Linked DNA regions of Homo sapiens: region 2 is linked to region 1. The links come from fine-mapping of genetic effects on gene expression. A gene starts in region 1. The other region holds a variant in brackets. All regions are shown on one strand. Distances are between the middles of the regions.

Region 1 (9,114 bases):
TTCACTTTGCATGACTTAGCACTTAGTCATTTATTGTGTTTGTTGAGGTTTCATTATTGGTTTCTTGACAGCCATTGGGGGTGGGAGCACTATGCATCCTATCTCCCTTAGTTTTGTACCTTGAGCAGAGCTGATTATACAGCAGTTGCCCAATAAATGTTGAGGACAGTGGATAGAGTGATGGATTTTATGGTCTAGGATGGTGACCATTAATTTAACAAATATTTATAGAATGCCACTGTCCTAAGTGCTGGAGATACAGCATTGAACAAAACAAAGTCTGAAGACTGACTTGTGGTTCTTATTTCCAGACAAAGCCCTGGACTTCCCTGGGTTCCTGGACATGATGGCACCTCGACTCAGGCCGGTAAGGGCCCTTGCCTTGGAGGAGATTGTATGTAGAGGGGTTATTCCAACCAGTCCTGTTTTGTCTGCAGGGCTGAGGGAATAGACAGGGATACCCTTAAGGGAGAACTCTGGAGCACTAACTGTGTGTTCCCTACAGATGCGTCCACCACCTCCCCCGCCGGCTAAAGCCCCGGATCCTGGCCACCCAGATCCCCTCACCTGAAGGCCAGGGAAGCCTTGACCCCCAGTGATGCTGCTGTCCCTATCTTCAAGCTGTCAGACCACACCATCAATGATCCAGAGCAACACAGCCAAAAGCTGGAATCGCCCTTATTTCCACCCTCACCTCCAAGGGTGGAAACTTGCCCCTTCCCATTTCTAGAGCTGGAACCCACTCCTTTTTTTCCCATTGTTCTATCATCTCTAGGACCGGAACTACCTTCTCTTCTGTCATGACCCTATCTAGGGTGGTGAAATGCCTGAAATCTCTGGGGCTGGAAACCATCCATCAAGGTCTCTAGTAGTTCTGGCCCACCTCTTTCCCCACCCTGGCTCCATGACCCACCCCACTCTGGATGCCAGGGTCACTGGGGTTGGGCTGGGGAGAGGAACAGGCCTTGGGAATCAGGAGCTGGAGCCAGGATGCGAAGCAGCTGTAATGGTCTGAGCGGATTTATTGACAATGAATAAAGGGCACGAAGGCCAGGCCAGGGCCTGGGCCTCTTGTGCTAAGAGGGCAGGGGGCCTACGGTGCTATTGCTTTAGGGGCCCACCACGGGCAGGGGCCTGCTCCCAGCTGCCACGCTCTATCATATGGAGCGAGGTGTTGGGGAAGGCGGGGCAGGCAGCCTGTTGCAGGCAGGGGAAGGAGAAGAGACTGAGGGGCTGTGACCTCTCCTGAGGCCCCCAGCCTGAGACTGTGCAACTCCAGGTGGAAGTAGAGCTGGTCCCTCAGCTGGGGGGCAGTGCTGTCCAGTGGAGGGGAGGGCTTTCACGCCCACCCACCCCCTGGCCCTGCCAGCTGGTAGTCCATCAGCACAATGAAGGAGACTTGGAGAAGAGGAAGAATAACACTGTTGCTTCCTGTTCAAGCTGTGTCCAGCTTTTCCCCTGGGGCTCCAGGACCTTCCCTACCTCCACCACCAAACCAAGGGATTTATAGCAAAGGCTAAGCCTGCAGTTTACTCGGGGGGTTCAGGGAGCCGAAAGGCTTAAATAGTTTAAGTAGGTGATGGGAAGATGAGATTACCTCATTTAGGGCTCAGGCAGACTCACCTCACATACTCCCTGCTCCCTGTGGTAGAGACACCTGAGAGAAAGGGGAGGGGTCAACAATGAGAGACCAGGAGTAGGTCCTATCAGTGCCCCCCAGAGTAGAGAGCAATAAGAGCCCAGCCCAGTGCAGTCCCGGCTGTGTTTTCCTACCTGGTGATCAGAAGTGTCTGGTTTGCTTGGCTGCCCATTTGCCTCTTGAGTGGGCAGCCCTGGGCTTGGGCCCCTCCCTCCGGCCCTCAGTGTTGGCTCTGCAGAAGCTCTGGGGTTCCCTTCAAGTGCACGAGGGGTTAGGCTGCTGTCCCTGAGTCCTCCATTCTGTACTGGGGGGCTGGCTAGGACCTGGGGCTGTGGCCTCTCAGGGGGCAGCCTCTCCATGGCAGGCATCCCTGCCTTGGGCTGCCCTCCCCCAGACCCCTGACCACCCCCTGGGTCCTGTCCCCCACCAGAGCCCCAGCTCCTGTCTGTGGGGGAGCCATCACGGTGTTCGTGCAGTCCATAGCGCTTCTCAATGTGTGTCACCCGGAACCTGGGAGGGGAGGGAACACTGGGGTTTAGGACCACAACTCAGAGGCTGCTTGGCCCTCCCCTCTGACCAGGGACATCCTGAGTTTGGTGGCTACTTCCCTCTGGCCTAAGGTAGGGGAGGCCTTCTCAGATTGTGGGGCACATTGTGTAGCCTGACTTCTGCCGGAGCTCCCAGTCCAGGAGGAAAGAGCCAAGGCCCACTTTTGGGATCAGGTGCCTGATCACTGGGCCCCCTACCTCAGCCCCCCTTTCCCTGGAGCACCTGCCCCACCTGCCCACAGAGAACACAGTGGTCTCCCCTGTCCGGGGGCGGCTTTTTCCTTCCTTGGAGCGTCCCTGACGGACAAGTGGAGGCCTCTTGCTGCGGCTGCAATGGAGGCAAGGGGCTGCAGAGCCCAGGTGCACTGTGTGATGATGGGAGGGGGCTCCGTCCTGCAGGCTGGAGGTGGCATCCACACTGGACAGCAGGGAGGAGGGGAGTGAGGGTAACATTTCCATTTCCCTTCATGTTTTGTTTCTTACGTTCTTTCAGCATGCTCCTTAAAACCCCAGAAGCCCCAATTTCCCCAAGCCCCATTTTTTCTTGTCTTTATCTAATAAACTCAATATTAAGATGTTAGTGACCATATGTTCTTCCTCCCAGGGCTGTTTGCTAAAAAGAACACTGCTTAACCCAAAGGAGTGGCACTAGAGGTGAATGTTAGGCTTGATGATATCTAGATGAGAGAGATGGTTTGAAGGAATCGCGATTTCTACAAAACAACTTTCTTCCTATAAGTTAGCCAGCTTTGCCCTTCCCCCAACCCCATACATGCAAGGAGGCTGGGAGAGGATTGTGCTGGAGGAGAGGATACTCTCCAAGGCAAGCTAAGTCATGCTGGCCCTTGTTTCCAGCTCACCTGGACAGCTGCACTGTCCCTTCTCCTTCACTGTCCCCCAGCATCTCCTTCAAGGCCTCAGCATTGGCTGAGGGAAGAAGGAAAAGAGGGAGTCAGTGGAGGTGGAGGTCAGGGCAAGAGAAGGTTGGAGAAGAGGGAGCAAGGGGCTATGCTAGACCCACCTTCATTCTGGATGATGCAGCGAACAATCCTCTCTACTGTGTCCTCATTCATGTCATCGTCCTCAGCTGAAGGATGAAAGAGATTGGCAAGGAAGCAGGAATGAGTCAGCTTTGGGGGAATATTACCTGGTGGCTCCCATCATTTATTGCTTAGGACATACCCTTTTACCTACTTGCTATCATGCTGGACCTCAGCATTTCAGGGACCAGAAAAGATGGGGACACCAATGCAAGCCCAAGACTACCATCCAGAGGACCGTTCCTGCCCATGCTGCTTTCTCTAGTTTTGCTTTCAGAGTGGTGTCACCCCACTTGCTAACTCAAGAGTGCATCACTAGGCTTCCTGAGCAGGTTTGATCAGGATTTGGCCTGGGTCTGTTGGTCAGGGAGGCAGAGGTGTGGGGAGAAGGGTGAAAGGTGACTGAGCCAGGGTTCCAGGCTCCTCACTCACGGGGCTGAAGCTGGGCATCGTCAGGCTCAGAGCCCCTCGACGTGCGGCAGCGGTAGCCCTTCTTCTTGAGCACGTGGCAGATCATGAAGCCTACCAGGCCCATGAGGAAGAAGACCAGCACAAGCAGGAAGAGCATATATAGCCCATGTTGGGGCGGTTCCAGGTCAGGCTGTGGTTCCGACATGAGGCCCTGGGGGGCGAGCGCGGGCCAGGGCGCCTCCTGGGTTTAGGGGGCTGCAGCTGGGAATGGGGGAGGGGTAGGAATGCCGTCCTCAGGATCTGAAACAAGCACGTCTAAGACGTCCGGCTGAGGTCCGGCCCCACCCCCTACCCAACCAGGGAGCTGTCCGGGCCAGGAGTGCTGTTTCGCCTTTCGGCAAGAGGTCAGCGGCAACGCAAGCTCTCTACCACGACCCTGGTCCCGCTTCCCCGACGCCCCGAGCGTTCCCCTTTCCAGCTTGTTCGCGCTTCTGTCCCTCCCAAGGACACTGCAGCACGAGATGGGACGGCATTCTTAGGCGGCGGGAGCAGAAATCCTGCCTGAGTCAGCGCCCGCACCTCCTCCACGCCGGCCTGAGCCAGGCCTCTGCAGCCCCTTCCTCTCAGTACTCCCGCACCCCTCTCCCTTTTTGGTTTCTCCCACCCTGACCACCTGGCCGACCCGGTACCGGTGATTTGGTTCTGGTTCCGGCTTCTGCTGGGGTTCCGGCTCCAGGGGCGTCCTAGTGCGGCTCAGGGCCCCCGACGCCCTTCCGGCGCTCATCCCTTGATTCCTCCCCTCCCCCTTCGCCGCCTCACCGGCCCCGGGCTGTGGCTGCGGATACCCGCGCCGTGGCAGGCGGGGGGAGGGAAGAACAGAGAAGGATGCGGGCTGGCTGAGAGCGGTGGCAGGCTCCGGGCAACTCCGGCCCTGGGTCAGGGAGATCGCCTCCGCAGCCGCCCTGGCTTCCCAAATGCCTTCACCCGTCGCGGGCCCAGGACCAGGGGGCGGAGCGCAGGTGTGCGGGGCGGAGAGCGTGAGCTCTGCGCGCGCGTGACTGCGCCGGGCCCCCCCGGGGCAATGTGCGGCGCCGAGTCTGGGTCCGGGTAGGGGACAGGCGGTCCGGCGTGGGTGTTGTCCACTGGTCTATCCGGTACGCCTGGCGCAGCTCCTGCCCTCAGATGCCCCGACCGAGCGGAGAGTCAGGAATCTTCTCCGAGGGCTGGGGGAAGCCGGCTTTCCGCACCTTTGAGGGACGGAGTGGCGGGATCTTCGGAGCTTCCTAGAGAAGTGACCACGGCCTGCGCCCGGTTTGGGGCAAGCGGCTGGATGGGATGGCTCGGCTTCCCGAGGATCTGACCCCCGGCCGGAGACAAATGGCCCTCGCATCCTAGGAGCTATGCTGCCAGTTCCCTGCCCAACCCGGGACGCTCAAAGCCCCAGATACCGGGAGAGCTGAGCCGGGCGAGGGGCGGAGCTCCCCTGGGGGCGTGGCCTGGGTGTGGATGGAGGCGGGGCCGCAACGCCCAGTTCCGCAGAGGCCGGCTACGTGCTTGCGCAGCACGCACGGCCGGGGAGGGGCTGGCGGCGGCCGCGGGCGGCGGGCGGCGGAGGTGCGGGGCCTGCTCCCGCCGGCACCATGGCCAAGACCGTGGCCTATTTCTACGACCCCGACGTGGGCAACTTCCACTACGGTGAGGAAACAGGGATATGCATGAGGGGTTGGGACACGGAGGTTTTGAGGCGGGGTTGCAACTCCAGGGGTGAGAGCTGACGAACTCTCTTCTCCCCACCCCCAGGAGCTGGACACCCTATGAAGCCCCATCGCCTGGCATTGACCCATAGCCTGGTCCTGCATTACGGTCTCTATAAGAAGATGATCGTGAGTTCCGCCGCCTCGGCCGGGGGTTGGGGGGTGGGGCGAGCTGTGGCCGTAGGGATAGGTGGGCTGGACTGAGTGCATGAAGTGCGACCCGCCCCTAGAGTATCGGGGAGCTGGATAGAAGTCACCAGGAGTACCTTGAAAGTGCAGGGTGTTGGGGGTGGCGTCCTCTGCTTAATGGAAAGTACTTTCTCACCTCAGGTCGGCCACCCTCTGACTGTAGGCACACTAGCCCTTGGCCTAGGGTTAGCGTGATGTGGGGCTGGTTTGAAGACAGAAGGTGTGTTCCTCCTCTGCATTTTAGAGTGTGGATAGGGCCTTGGCCTCAGGAATTAGGGTTAGGGGAGCGGATATCACTGTATCAGGGTGTGAGGTTTACCCTCAGTTCCCACTCCTCTTTTACCACCTTTCTTTACCTCCAAGGAGCTAGGGCTCCAGGGTGGAACGATGCTGCCGTCTTTGTAAATGTGTATGTGCGTGTGGAACAGAGGCGATATTTTAGATATTCCTTTTTCAGCCTGGAATACCTCTACATGGTTCTGCTTAATCGCTATCCAGTTTTTCATCTACCAGACATACACATGCTGTCTTCCCAGCTTGGAATTTATGGCTGTGATATGGGATAGTAACAGTTAAGCCACGCCAGGCGTGGTGGCCCATGCCTGTAATCCCAGCACTTTGGGAGGTTGAAATGGGGGGGATCGCTTGAGGCCAGGAGTTGGAGACCAGCTTGGGCCACAGTGGGACCCACATCTACAAAAAATAAAAATAAAAAAAGTAGCCATGTGCGGTGGGTGTGCCTGTAGTCCCAACTACTTGGGAGGCCGAGGCGAGAGGATGGCTTGGGCCCAGGAGTTTAAAGTTACAGTGATCTATGATCAGCAGCCTGAGTTGACAGGGAGGACCTTGTCTCAAAAGAAAAAATAAGACAAAACAGCTAAACCCAGGCTTTATGTGTTGCTAGGGAAACTAGTGAACAATATGAATGAATGTTCATTGCTTGTGCCAAGGCACAGACAAATGGACTGGTCATAGAAAAGACTGAGGTGATGTTAGTGCAGGAATCTATATCCCTTGAGATTGTTTGCCTGTATGTACCTGTGTGCATTTTCTGGGAGAAGAAAAGCTCTTTCTTGTGCAGTTTTCAAAGAGGTGTGACACATCCCCCTGACCTTCCAAAGATAATAAATCTTTGATTTTAATTAGAAAGTTGACATATATCCCATATATTTGACTCCAGAAAGAAGAATCCAGAGGAAAGAGGACAGAATCAGAGCTTGGGGGAGGAGATGAGCATGGAGAGAACTGGGAATAGGAGATTCCAAGGAACAGGGCAGGTGGATCAGGGCTCAAAGTTGAGAAGGTACGATAGGCTGAGCTGGAGGTGGAAAGGAAAAGAAGTGGTCTTCAGGGGGCTCATTTGTAATAACTTACCTGGTTAATCGGAGTCTCTCTACTGACTTAAGGATTGTGGGATGAGGGGAATGCTATGTTTGGCTTCATATAGTCTCCAGGACTGGGTTCAGTATGGGTGGTCTGAGCCTGTGGAGTGGGGCTGACCCTGCCTGGGTTCATCTTGTGTCTCCATCCCGAGGTCTTCAAGCCATACCAGGCCTCCCAACATGACATGTGCCGCTTCCACTCCGAGGACTACATTGACTTCCTGCAGAGAGTCAGCCCCACCAATATGCAAGGCTTCACCAAGAGTCTTAATGCCTTCAACGTAGGCGATGACTGGTGAGGGAGGACTGGGAGTTTTGATGTCTAACAGTTTAATGCCAAGCCCTTCAGTGAGGTCTTTTGGCAGCAGTGGGAAGATCTCAAGGGGGGCCTACTTGTCAATGCATCATAATTCATTTTATTTGTTTATTCAATAAATATTTATTGGTCACTTGTTCTAGGCAGGCCCTGTGCTAAGTGCTGGGAATGCAGTGATGAACAAAAACAAAATTTTAATATCGTATTTTTGCTAAGTCTTATAAAGAGGAGGTGTATGACAGATTATGAGAGTGTATACGTGGAGGATTGTTTAGCTTGGTGGAGTGGCTGGTCGGTGGGGCCTTCCTAGAGGAAGTAAAGATTGAGCTGAGATCTGAAAAAAGAGTAGAAGTAATCAGATGAAAGATGGTTGGAGGGTGAGGGGAGAAGTATAGCAGGCAGTAGGGACAAGTGCTAAGGGTCTGTGGTAGGACTGAGTATGACTCATTTGAGGAACAGAAAAAAGGCCAAGTGCAGAGTATGAAGAGGAGGTGAACTGAATTGAGGCTAAAGAAATAGGACCTTTTAAAAGCAAACAGCTCTATTATGAATTGGGGTTTTTACCCGTAGAGTAGAGGGAAGCTATCAAAGTGTTTTAAAAAGCAAGGGATCTTAAGAGGGCTATGGGCAGTTAAAAAAACAAAAAAAACAACGAAGGAGTGGTTTGATATCATTAGGTTTACATTGAGCTTGTATCATCCATAGAAGAGTCAGGGTTAGACCCTCTGGGGAAGAGAGTGGACAACAAAGATAAGCCACACTCTACTCTATATCCATGAAAAAATAGTAACCATCACAGCTACCAGTTGCTCAATTCTACTTACTTTTGTTTTTAAACTTTTTATTAGGGAAAATTTCAAAAATTTCTGAAAGTGAAGTAGTGCAGTGACCTCCCATACGTCCATCACCTAGCTTCAACGCTTATGAGCAAATGGCCACTCTTTTTTTTTTTTTTTTTTTTTTTGAGACAGAGTCTCACTCTGTAGCCCAGGCTGGAGTGCAGTGGTGCAGTCTTGGCTCACTGCAACCTCTGCCTCCTGGGTTCAAGCGATTCTCATGCCTCAGACTCCCGAGTAGCTGGGATTACAGGCGCCTGCCACCATGCCTGGCTAATTTTTGTATGTTTAGTAGAGATGGGGTTTCACTATGTTGGTCAGGCTGGTTTTGAACTCCTGACCTCAGGTGATCCACCAGCCTCAGCCTCCAAAAGTGCTGGGATTACAGACGTGAGCCATCGCACCCAGCTGAGCAAGTGGCCACTCTTACTTCATCTATACTCCCTCATGTTAGATTGTTTTAAAGCAGATCCTAGATGTTATATCCTTTTATCCATAAATATTTTATTATGTATCTCTAAATGATACTCTTTTAAAAAAACATAGTATCATTATCAAACCTAAAAAGTTAACAGTGATTCCTTAATGTCATCAAATATGGGATCAATATTCAAATTTCTGCAGTTGTCTCATAATTATTTTGTAGCTAATTTAAATCCAGATCTAAACAAGGTCTATACAGTGCATTTGGTTGATATGTCTCTTAAGACTTTTAATTTGTAGCTTTTCTGTCACCCCCTTGAATTTATTTCTTGAAGAAACCAGGTTGTTGATCCTGTAGAATTTCTTATGATAGCTACCATTTACTGAGTGCTTACTCTGCTAGGTATTATGCCAAGGGTTGCTGGTAAATCCACTTAATTCTCATACCAATCCTTAGATGTATTATAATAGACCTTTTTCTGATGTTATATATAAGTAAATTGAGGTTTGGGAATATCTAGGTAACTTAGCCGTAGTCACATAACTGGTCATTGGAGGGGGCATGATCCAGATCCC
Region 2 (9,114 bases), 110 kb after region 1:
TTTTCTTTAGAGATGGGGTCTCACTTTGTTGCCCAGGCTGCATAGTTCCTGAGAGCATTCCATTGTTGTGGAGTAGAAGCACACCATGCAGATCAACCATAAAAGTCCCACCAACTCCCCTGCCTGTACCCCGTCTCCACTACACACGCTCACACATGCTTCCCTCTCTTTCCCCTCCCCAGAGGTAACCACTGCCACTGGACTTTATTCTGATTTGCACCTCATACATTTATTTTAAACAAAAACTGCATTGTATTGTGTTTTGCACATATGTCTTGGCCATGTTTCCATAATAGTATTTATAGAAAACCTCCTTTTAGGTCAAGAGATGGAGACCATCCTGGTCAGCATGGTGAAACCCCATCTCTACTAAAAATACAAAAAAATCAGCTGGGCGTGATGGTGCGCGCCTGTAGTTCCAGCTACTTGGGAGGCTGAGGCAGGAGAATTGCTTGAACCCAGGAGGTGGAGGTTGCAATGAGCCAAGATCGCGCCACTGCACTCCTGCCCGGCGATAGAACAAAACCCTGTCTCAAACAAACAAACACAAACAAACAAACAAACAACAGTTTAAACTGCCACCTTCTTTTTTTATAGGTGTACCATAGTTCATGGTTTACTATTCCCCTATTTAGGGGTACCTACATGGCTTTGGTTTTTGCTGTTATAAACAGTGCTGTATTGAACATCCCTTTGCATGCCAGTACTCATCTTTGAGTAATTCCTTGGGCTAGAGAAGTGGGTCTGCTTCTTGGTCTTGGTCTTGGTCCTTTACTCCTTGGCTGCACAGCTTTGTGAAGGATGCACAGGAACAGTATAACAAGCTGCGGATGATGCATTCTAACATGGAGACCCTCTATAAGGAGCTGGGCGAGTACTTCCTCTTTGACCCCAAGAAGTTGTCTGTTGAAGAATTTTTCATGGATCTTCACAATTTTCGGAATATGTTTTTGGTGAGCAAGGGATACTTGCTGACTGAATCTTTTGTGGGCATTTCTCACTTTCCCCTGGGTTCCTGTTGGCTGGTAGTAGGTATACAATGCCCATGTGTTCCTTCCTCCTCTTCCCTGCCCCAGCAAGCAGTCAAGGAGAACCAGAAGCGGCGGGAGACAGAAGAAAAGATGAGGCGAGCAAAACTAGCCAAGGAGAAGGCAGAGAAGGAGCGGCTAGAGAAGCAGCAGAAGAGAGAGCAACTCATAGACATGAATGCAGGTGAGGAGTGAAGACGGGTTGATGGGCTGAGATAGGAATGTTGGGAAGACTTCTCTGCCTAGAGTCTAGAGGCAGAGTCTCATGTCTGAGCTCACCTCCTGGCAAATGATTTTTGGCAGTCTTCACTCCGAGATCCTGATGCCGGACTTTAACCCCAATTCTGATACATGCGCATTCCAACTTGCCCTGGTTAAACTATTACCTTTTCTCTCCTTTGCTCGCTCTTGCATTCTCTCTCATTCCCCTGTGATTGTGGTATTGCTGTGATATATACTGTTTTCCTTCTGTCCATCCAAAGGTTCCTCTGGCCTGTTCTCATTCCCTCCACTAAATCTTTCGGGTTTTTTTCTGTAAAATATTTTCCTGACGCTCCTCCCATCTTTTAATTGTGGCGTGTCTTCCCTTTCTGCTTATTTCACAAAGTACTATGTCCCTAGTACCTTAGCACAGTTGTATGCACAATTAGATTTTAAATGGATTGAACTTTTGGAGCGGGTGGGGAGCCGGTCACCCTCTTCTTTCTTCAGCAGAATCTCTGTTTCACTACCAGAAGCATGTCTTTGTTGAAACATATGGTTTCAATTACTGGCCCTCTGTTTCCTGTCTCTGCTTCTTTCTTGCTGCAGATTCCCTACCCCTTCGCCCCCACTGCTCTCTCTGTGGGCAGCGGAAATACAGCATACACTGCTCACACAGCACTGAGCCCATGCCACCCTCCTCTAAACCTGAGGGGCCACAAACCTTCTGCAAATGAAGAGGTGTTCACAGAGCTGCTGAGTTTGTTAGGAATCAGTATTTTACAGAGCACAGGCACAAGGGCTGCTCTGATACCTCTTGCTACCAGGGACTTTTTATACTTTTCTGTAAAGCAATTTCCTTGCCCTTAGTTGTAAGCCACAACTTCGTAATGCTATTAAAGCCCACACCAAGTATCCTTCACCTTCCCCTGGGACTCCAGGGTTTGTCCCCAGGTACTGGCTAGGATGCAGTGGGGGAAGGTGGAGTCCCGCTGACATGTGGGATGAGGGCTGCACACGGTCAACAGGTGGCGTAATGGACCTTGCCCAGTTTCCAGTACCCGGGTCAAGCAAATGAGGGTGGAATGTAGGTCAGCTGCACTGGTGATGCTCAGCCAGCAGGTGGCGCTGGGAGCAGTGAGCCCCAGCCTTGGATCTGGCAGCCTATGGACTTTTTGGGATTTCACAGTTTCAGATTTCACTATCCTAAGCTGTTGTCATGGAAACCGAGCCAGGCTAGAACAAGGATTCTACATTAACTCTTTGTATTCCAGCCAGGCTGCTCCTCTTAGATGCAGAGGACTTAGACATCAGGAAGACTTAGCCACTGGAGGCAGTACTTCAGGAAAGTGCACTCTTTGATCAGTGGTCTTTCCTCGGCCCTGCTCTGAAACCTAACCAGGCAAAACACTTTAGGATAAAAGGGAGTGATATAGTTGCTTAGTAATTTCACAATCGTAGTCTCTACTTATCCTGGTCTTGGAGTTGGGCAGTTGTATAATTTTGTTGCTAGTCCTGATTGGGGTGGGGAGGATGGCATTGCGGGAAAATATCCCAAGGTCTGCATTGGATAATAGGCAATGAGATCTTTTGTTTTAACCATTTTTTAGCAGATACAAGTAAACATGAGCGTGTGAGACTTAAGGCTGAGCTCTCTTTGCCTCTTCTTAGCTGCCAGCTGCTGTGGGAGAGGGGAAATCAAGCAATAGCCATTCATTTTGTGTGGGGCTTGATATTTGCCATGCTGCTCTGGCTGAAGAGTTCACATCTCCATCTTGTTCTTTATAACAGAGGGCGATGAGACAGGTGTGATGGACAGTCTTCTAGAAGCCCTGCAGTCAGGGGCAGCATTCCGACGGAAGAGAGGGCCCCGTCAAGGTAAGTAAGCACATGGAGCTCATCCTGGGTGTCGAAGGGGGTGAGGGCTCTCTACTCCTGCCAGTCTGCGGCTAAAGAGCAAATAATGATGCTCTAAGCATCTTTTTAGTCCCTGCATCCAGAACGGATTATCTAGTCCTCTTCTTCCCATGTTACAGAGTAGCGACTTAGAAAACTGGGGTTTAAGGGACTGGCAATAAATCAGTTACATTGGATTATGCCGCATTTCTCCCCACTCTTGAAGCAGATATTTGGAACAAAGGAACTGAGCTGCAGGACCCAGGGATTTGAGTTGGCATTTGTGTGTATGAACAAAAGTTGATCTAAATACAAAATGTATATTAGATATAGATTGAAATTCAAAGAAAAAATAAGTCAGAGTCCTTACTCTGGACTTCACAAGCAGAAGACATACGTAGAGAGAACTAATAATAGAAAGTATAAAATTTTGTAGACAGGTTTAGGCATCATTATTCCCAGATAGAAAAATATAGAGGAGCATCTCAGTTGAAGGATTATGCCGTGTCTGAAAACTACCTTTTCCTTGAGTGCAGTTAGCCTCTATTGCCCTTGCCTTCCCCATCACTGCCCTGCAATCTCCTTTCATGTCCTTTGGAAGATCTAAGTGGATTACATTGAGCTAGAGATTCTAAAAAGAATTATGGAGCTAGGACAAGTGATCCAGGCATTAGTATGGGAAAAGATTAATGAATAAGTTCCCTTTCAGGGAAGCTTACAGTGGCCAAGAGACTAATTCAAAGGAAGGTATAGGCAAGTCTGCCCCTCATGTGGAGTTGACCTGCACTATCGTGTCTAGTGAAGGTCTTTTGAGGCTAGGAGTGGTGGCTTCTTTACTAATTTGAAGAGTGGGAATTACAAAAAAAGGCATCATTAGAGGTTTCTACTTCAGAGGGACTTAAATCTATGTTCCCTGTTTCCTGGCTGTTGCATTGTGTAGGCCCATTTGATAGTTATACTTTGAGATTATTGTAAACAGAAGGAGTTAACACAGCTTGCTTTGGCCAGTGCTTAGCTATTAATACAGTGGTATCTGTAGGGCCTGTAGTACCTGCCACAGCCTGGAAAGGGGGACCTTAGAGCATGCTAGCCTATGTAAACTCAGTATTCTGGCCCAACAACAGCCATCACTGTGAGTTTCATCTGTAATGGCTGGCTGCCCATTTCTACCTATACTCTGAATAACCAGAGTGATACTCCCTTCTGAGGGTTCTCTTGTATGACTTCAGAATGTTCCCCAAACTGAAAGCTCCCGAGTCAAAGTTCTTACCCATTTTCTGGCATTCTCTGAGTACAGGCTTTCTAAAGCGTGGGGAGAAGTGGATATGAAGAGCTGAGTACTCTCTGGGCTCGAGCATTTAGTCTTATAGATAGGTGTTTGCAAGGAGAGTACAGCTAGAGGTACTATTACTCCTGTATTTTGTCTTTATAGGTTCTTACAACATTATTTCCTACTGACCACACAAGGTGATGTGGCCTTAACATTAAGCATTTCTAGCCTTACAAAAATACATTGCATCTTATTGTTTTTTTTTTTTTTTTTTTTGACCCCGTCGGCTAAGTGCCTGCATCAGA[A/C]TTTTGGTGGGGAATTCCCTTTTAAGCCTCTTCCTGTGGAACTATACTAGAATCCCAGATGCTTCCTGTCCACAGGTAGCCAGACATCAGTGGCTTCCCTCTGCTGGGGAAGCCCCATTCTTCACTTCTTTCCAAGTAGAAAATCAGAACTCACAGGTGGAGGAAGGAGGAATTTTGTTGGAAACTAACCTTCCAGCAGAGGACCTGAATTAGTCAAAGTACTCTCTCCCATGCAAGAGGGAATAGGAGGAGACTTATACTAGGAGATACTAAATTGGAAAGTAGGTGAAATGACAATTACATATATTTTAAGTGGCTCTAGCCTATAAGCTTATCTTTCTAGGCTCTGGGTCCACTAAATACACTTGAATATATCTGGGAGAATCTCAAGGGAGACATTTGTAGTTATTCTGGTAACTCTTTAGACCCTGGTGCATTCACATCATGTAAAGTGATGTGATGCGGTCTCACATTAAACAGGAGGATAGCCATCAGAGTAGATTACAAAGAACACAGGGCTAGGTAGGGATCAAAAGACCTAAAGTCACATCTAGTTCTGATGCTGTCTGTGTTATCCTAAGCAAGTCACTTAATGTTTCTGGGACTCAGTTCCTCAGGTATAAAATGAGAGTTGGACTAGAATGAATGGTCTGCAGGGTCCCTTCCAGCTCTAATATTTTTTTTGTGCAGTGACAACAGGATTAAGAGGAGAGAGAGGCTGGACTTAGATGGCCCCATTCTCAAAATACAAAGGCTCCACTGGCTATAGGTTTCTCTATGCAGCTACTGAATTTGGCTGTTCCACCCCTTGCCTGGCTGTCTCTGACTATTCCTCTTGGCTGATTGCTTTGAGCTAAAAAAACAGAGGCACTGTGGAACATATCTGCCTCATAGCCCTCCTTTTTTCCAGAGAGGCAGCTGTCCCTATTCAAAGACACTAGCTTTTTCCCTAGAATTTAAAGGAATGTTAAATTCTTCCGGTCTCTGGAGACCTGGGGGAGTGACCAGTATACAAAGACTCATTGAGGAGTTGGAAGAGGAGAGTTACTATCAGGCTTGGTTCATTAAAAGCAACATGTAAACTCCTGTGATCCGCAGGGTGTGGGAGAACAATGGTTGGAGTGTCAAGGGGAAGAATCCATGTGATTGTATTACAGCTGCTATTTCAGGCCCATGATTGAGTCAGCTTGTGGTTTTAATGACTCAACTTTATCTCCATGTCTGAATTGTGGCCTCTTGTATACAAGTCATTTGCTCACTGGGATAAAAGCCAAGGGAAGAAAGAAATTCAACTCTTCCTTTCCTTCCCTCTACCATTTCCCAGCTTCCCTATAAGCTCCATCCATCTAACAGAACCATAGAGTTGGAAAGACTCTAAAGACTTCCAGTGATTAGTATCTAACCTTCTCATAGGGAAAGGGATTAAAACCAGATAAGGTGACTAACACGGTGAAACTCTGTCTCTACCAAAAATACAAAAAATTAGCCGGGCGTGGTGGCAGGCACCTGTAGTCCCAGCTACTCAGGAGGCTGAGGCAGGAGAATGGCATGAACCCAGGAGGCGGAGCTTGCAGTGAGCCGAGATTGCGCCACTGCACTTCAGCCTGGGTGACAGAATGAGACTCCATCTCAAAAAAATAAAAATAAAAAACAGATAAAGTCTTGCCCAGGTCTACATGGCTAATGACAGAGCACTGTAGCCCACTTTTGTGACTCCAAGTCCAGGCCTGTTTCCCCTCAGCCTGCGTGATTGAACAGGAGACAGCAGTGAACCCACAGTATGGGCCGGAAATATTCTTTCATACCTTCCAGCAAGGAGAGTCGGACATAATGACATTGCTTCAGGAAGGTGCTCTCATGACCACCTGTGTTAGTCTATTTTGTATTATTATAAAGAAATACTGGAGACTGGGTAATTTATAAAGAAAAGGGGTTTATTTGGCTGACAGTTCTGCAGACTGTAGAGAAAGCATGGCGCCAGCATCTGCTGTTGAGGCCTCAGGAAGCTTCCAATCAAGGGGGGAGAAGGTGTATCACAAGGCGGAAGTGGGAGCTAGAGAGATGCCAGGCTCTTTTAAACAACCAGTGCTTGTATGAGCTCATTACTGTGGGGAGGGCACCAAGCCACTCATAAGGGATCCACCCCATGACCCAAGTGCCTCCCACTAGGCCCCACCTCCAACATTGTAGTCCACATTTCAGCATGAGGTTTGGAGGGGTCATACATCCAAACCATATCACCTCCTATCTAGAGAAGGTTGCTAAGAATATTTCCTGTACCACTGCTTATTCTCCCCCCTACTTTTGTAAATAGGACAAGAAACATAATTAGCAGAGTTTGAGACAAGAATGAGTTATTTAGTGTGATGATGATTGCCCCATCTGTCCTAGTTTCCTCTTCCCTAAGGAAGCTTAATGTATTAACAAGAGCACTTCCTCTTTAGTAATAGTTCCTAGCCTACGTTTTATAAAGGTCTTTTTTCAAATCACTAACCTTTTTAAAACTTGCGTTATATGGTTGATTTTGCTGGTGTTTTTATCCTAGCCCACCCCTAACTTCTAGGAATCTGTCCTCAGAGAGCATTCACCAGTATCTCAACATTGTTCCCTTTTCCCACACAGCCTGTGGGACTGTTCTCTTGTAGTCAAAATATTTATCTGGTTCTATGGCTACTTTTCAATAGTCTAATAACAAGTGAGTAAGTTGGGGGAAGCATGGGGAGGTCAGTTTTTCTTGACTGTTCAACCTGCTGAGCATAATGGTGAGTGAGTGGAAAGCTGGGAGACCTGTTCCAACAAGAGCTTTCTCATCCCCTGACCTTAGGCCAAATCACACCCTCCCTGGTGTATAGGCTTTCAAGGCTTAAAAGGGAAATTTTGATCTTCTCCCTACCTACTCTCTGCTCCTGGTTCTTATGAAGTTTGTAATACATCAGAAGCTTCTTGAGTCCAGAAAAGTCTAGAAACACCACTTGGTTAGGTACAACTGGTATCTTCTTATTTTGGAGGAAGAAACCACAGAAAGCAGCAGCTAAAGACCTACCACATGGGACCTCTGCCTTCTCCTGTGTTGCCCAGGACAAGTGGCCCAGTGTTCTTTTCCCAAGGTCTGGAGTCAGATGTTATTTCAACATATATATACCACTAGAGTTACACACACACACACACATGCACAGAGTCGCAGTGTCTTCTCAACTGTTGGAGACTGAATTCAAAGAAATAATAAAATGATAGGAAACTACTACCCTTCTGGATATGAGAAATGGGGTCTAGAGAGGGAGTACTTCAGAAGAGAGTGGAAATGTAGGAGGCCTGAGGAAGATTTTGGTGGTAAGGACAGTATGAGAAATGCACACATGTAGACCATCATAGTCACACTCACGTAGGCTCCTTTTCCTCACTTGTCTCAGTCACGGGGCATTAGTTTATGTTCATAATCCAATAAATGGTTTTGTGAAAATCCCACAGTCTCGGGCACATACCTATGATCTGTAACTAGATAAGTCCTGTGGCTGTCAGTCAGGGTCTTCACTATTCTTTCTCCTCTTGGTAGACAACCTCTTGTGCCCCTGGGAAGTAGAGGAGGAGGAGGAGACCTTTAAATTGGTAACCTGTGTGCATGCTGCGTGTTCCCTGCTTGATCTATGGGCAGCCTCTCCTGGGATGAAAACAGTAGCTCTGGGTCATGGCTCTGCAGGGAGAGAAGACCTGGTTAAGACTTGGGCTTTGGCAGGCTGTGGTGACTCATGCTTGTAATCCCAGAACTTTAGGTTCCAAGGTGGGAGGATTGCTTGAGCCCAGGAGTTCAAGACCAGCCTAGACAACATGGAGAGACCCCATCTCTGCAAAAAAATACAAAAATAGCCAGATATGGTGGCACATGCTTATAGTCCCAGCTACTAGGGAGGCTGAGGTGGGTGGATCACTTGAGCCTGGGAGGTTGAGGCTACGGTGAGCTGTGATTGCGCTGCTGCACTCCAGCCTGGGCGACTGAGATTCCATCAAAAAAAAAAAAAAAAAGACGGGCTATCTGATCCTGTTTGGCTTCTGCCTACCTAAAGCTTTTTGCTGGTCCAAAAAGGCGCTTCATTCCAGTCATGCAGCTGCCCCAGTCTTGGTCTTTATTTAGGAGTGCTCGGCTCTTTCATCTGGTCCTGCTTCTAAAACATTCCGGTACTGCTTTCTCCACTCCAGCTTTCCCAGATCTCCAGGAAGTCTTTTTTTTTTTTTTTTTTTTCCAATTGAGCTATCATTTACATACCTAAAATTCACCTTTTAAAAATGTATAATTCAGGGGTTTTAGAATATCCACAAGATTGTATAACCATTACTATCTAATTCCAGGACGTTTCATCATCCCCAGAAGAAAAACTTCATAATCCCCATTAGCAGTCACTACTGATTCTCCCCTCCC

Alleles and levels. Alleles are on the strand shown, and positions count from the first base shown. SD is a standard deviation of normalised expression in the study named.
With allele C in place of A in region 2, the expression in nucleus accumbens of the gene that starts at base 5,072 in region 1 is lower (small effect, 0.16 SD a copy in GTEx).

The links. PIP is the estimated chance that this variant, and not a neighbour inherited with it, causes the effect.
Region 2: its variant is fine-mapped to the expression of RELL2 in nucleus accumbens (GTEx, PIP 0.93).

What each region holds. Positions count from the first base shown.
Region 1 is chr5:141,632,955-141,642,068 of GRCh38, reverse strand. RELL2 (RELT like 2) reads right to left here and starts at 5,072. Exons shown (of 7, transcript NM_173828.5): 1 at 3,660-5,072; 2 at 3,209-3,274; 3 at 3,048-3,114; 4 at 2,420-2,605; 5 at 1,774-2,149; 6 at 1,624-1,657; 7 at 1,005-1,398. The coding sequence starts at 3,843. The coding sequence ends at 1,625. HDAC3 (histone deacetylase 3) reads left to right here and starts at 5,220. Exons shown (of 15, transcript NM_003883.4): 1 at 5,220-5,333; 2 at 5,439-5,521; 3 at 7,116-7,258. The coding sequence starts at 5,279. It overlaps FCHSD1 (FCH and double SH3 domains 1), which reads left to right. Exons shown (of 20, transcript NM_033449.3): 19 at 312-367; 20 at 506-2,767. The coding sequence ends at 571. RefSeq lists enhancers at 3,664-3,783, 4,484-4,533, 7,771-7,900 and silencers at 5,044-5,333, 5,394-5,443, 5,453-5,747.
Region 2 is chr5:141,518,136-141,527,249 of GRCh38, reverse strand. It overlaps DIAPH1 (diaphanous related formin 1), which reads left to right. Exons shown (of 28, transcript NM_005219.5): 25 at 789-953; 26 at 1,077-1,212; 27 at 3,021-3,107. LOC124901091 (a long non-coding RNA gene) reads right to left here. Exons shown (of 2, transcript XR_007058971.1): 2 at 6,614-8,269. Among named protein-coding and RNA genes, the nearest start is that of PCDHGC5, 34 kb to the right of the region's middle. RefSeq lists an enhancer at 5,734-6,028. The variant A/C (reference allele first, on the strand shown) is at 4,701.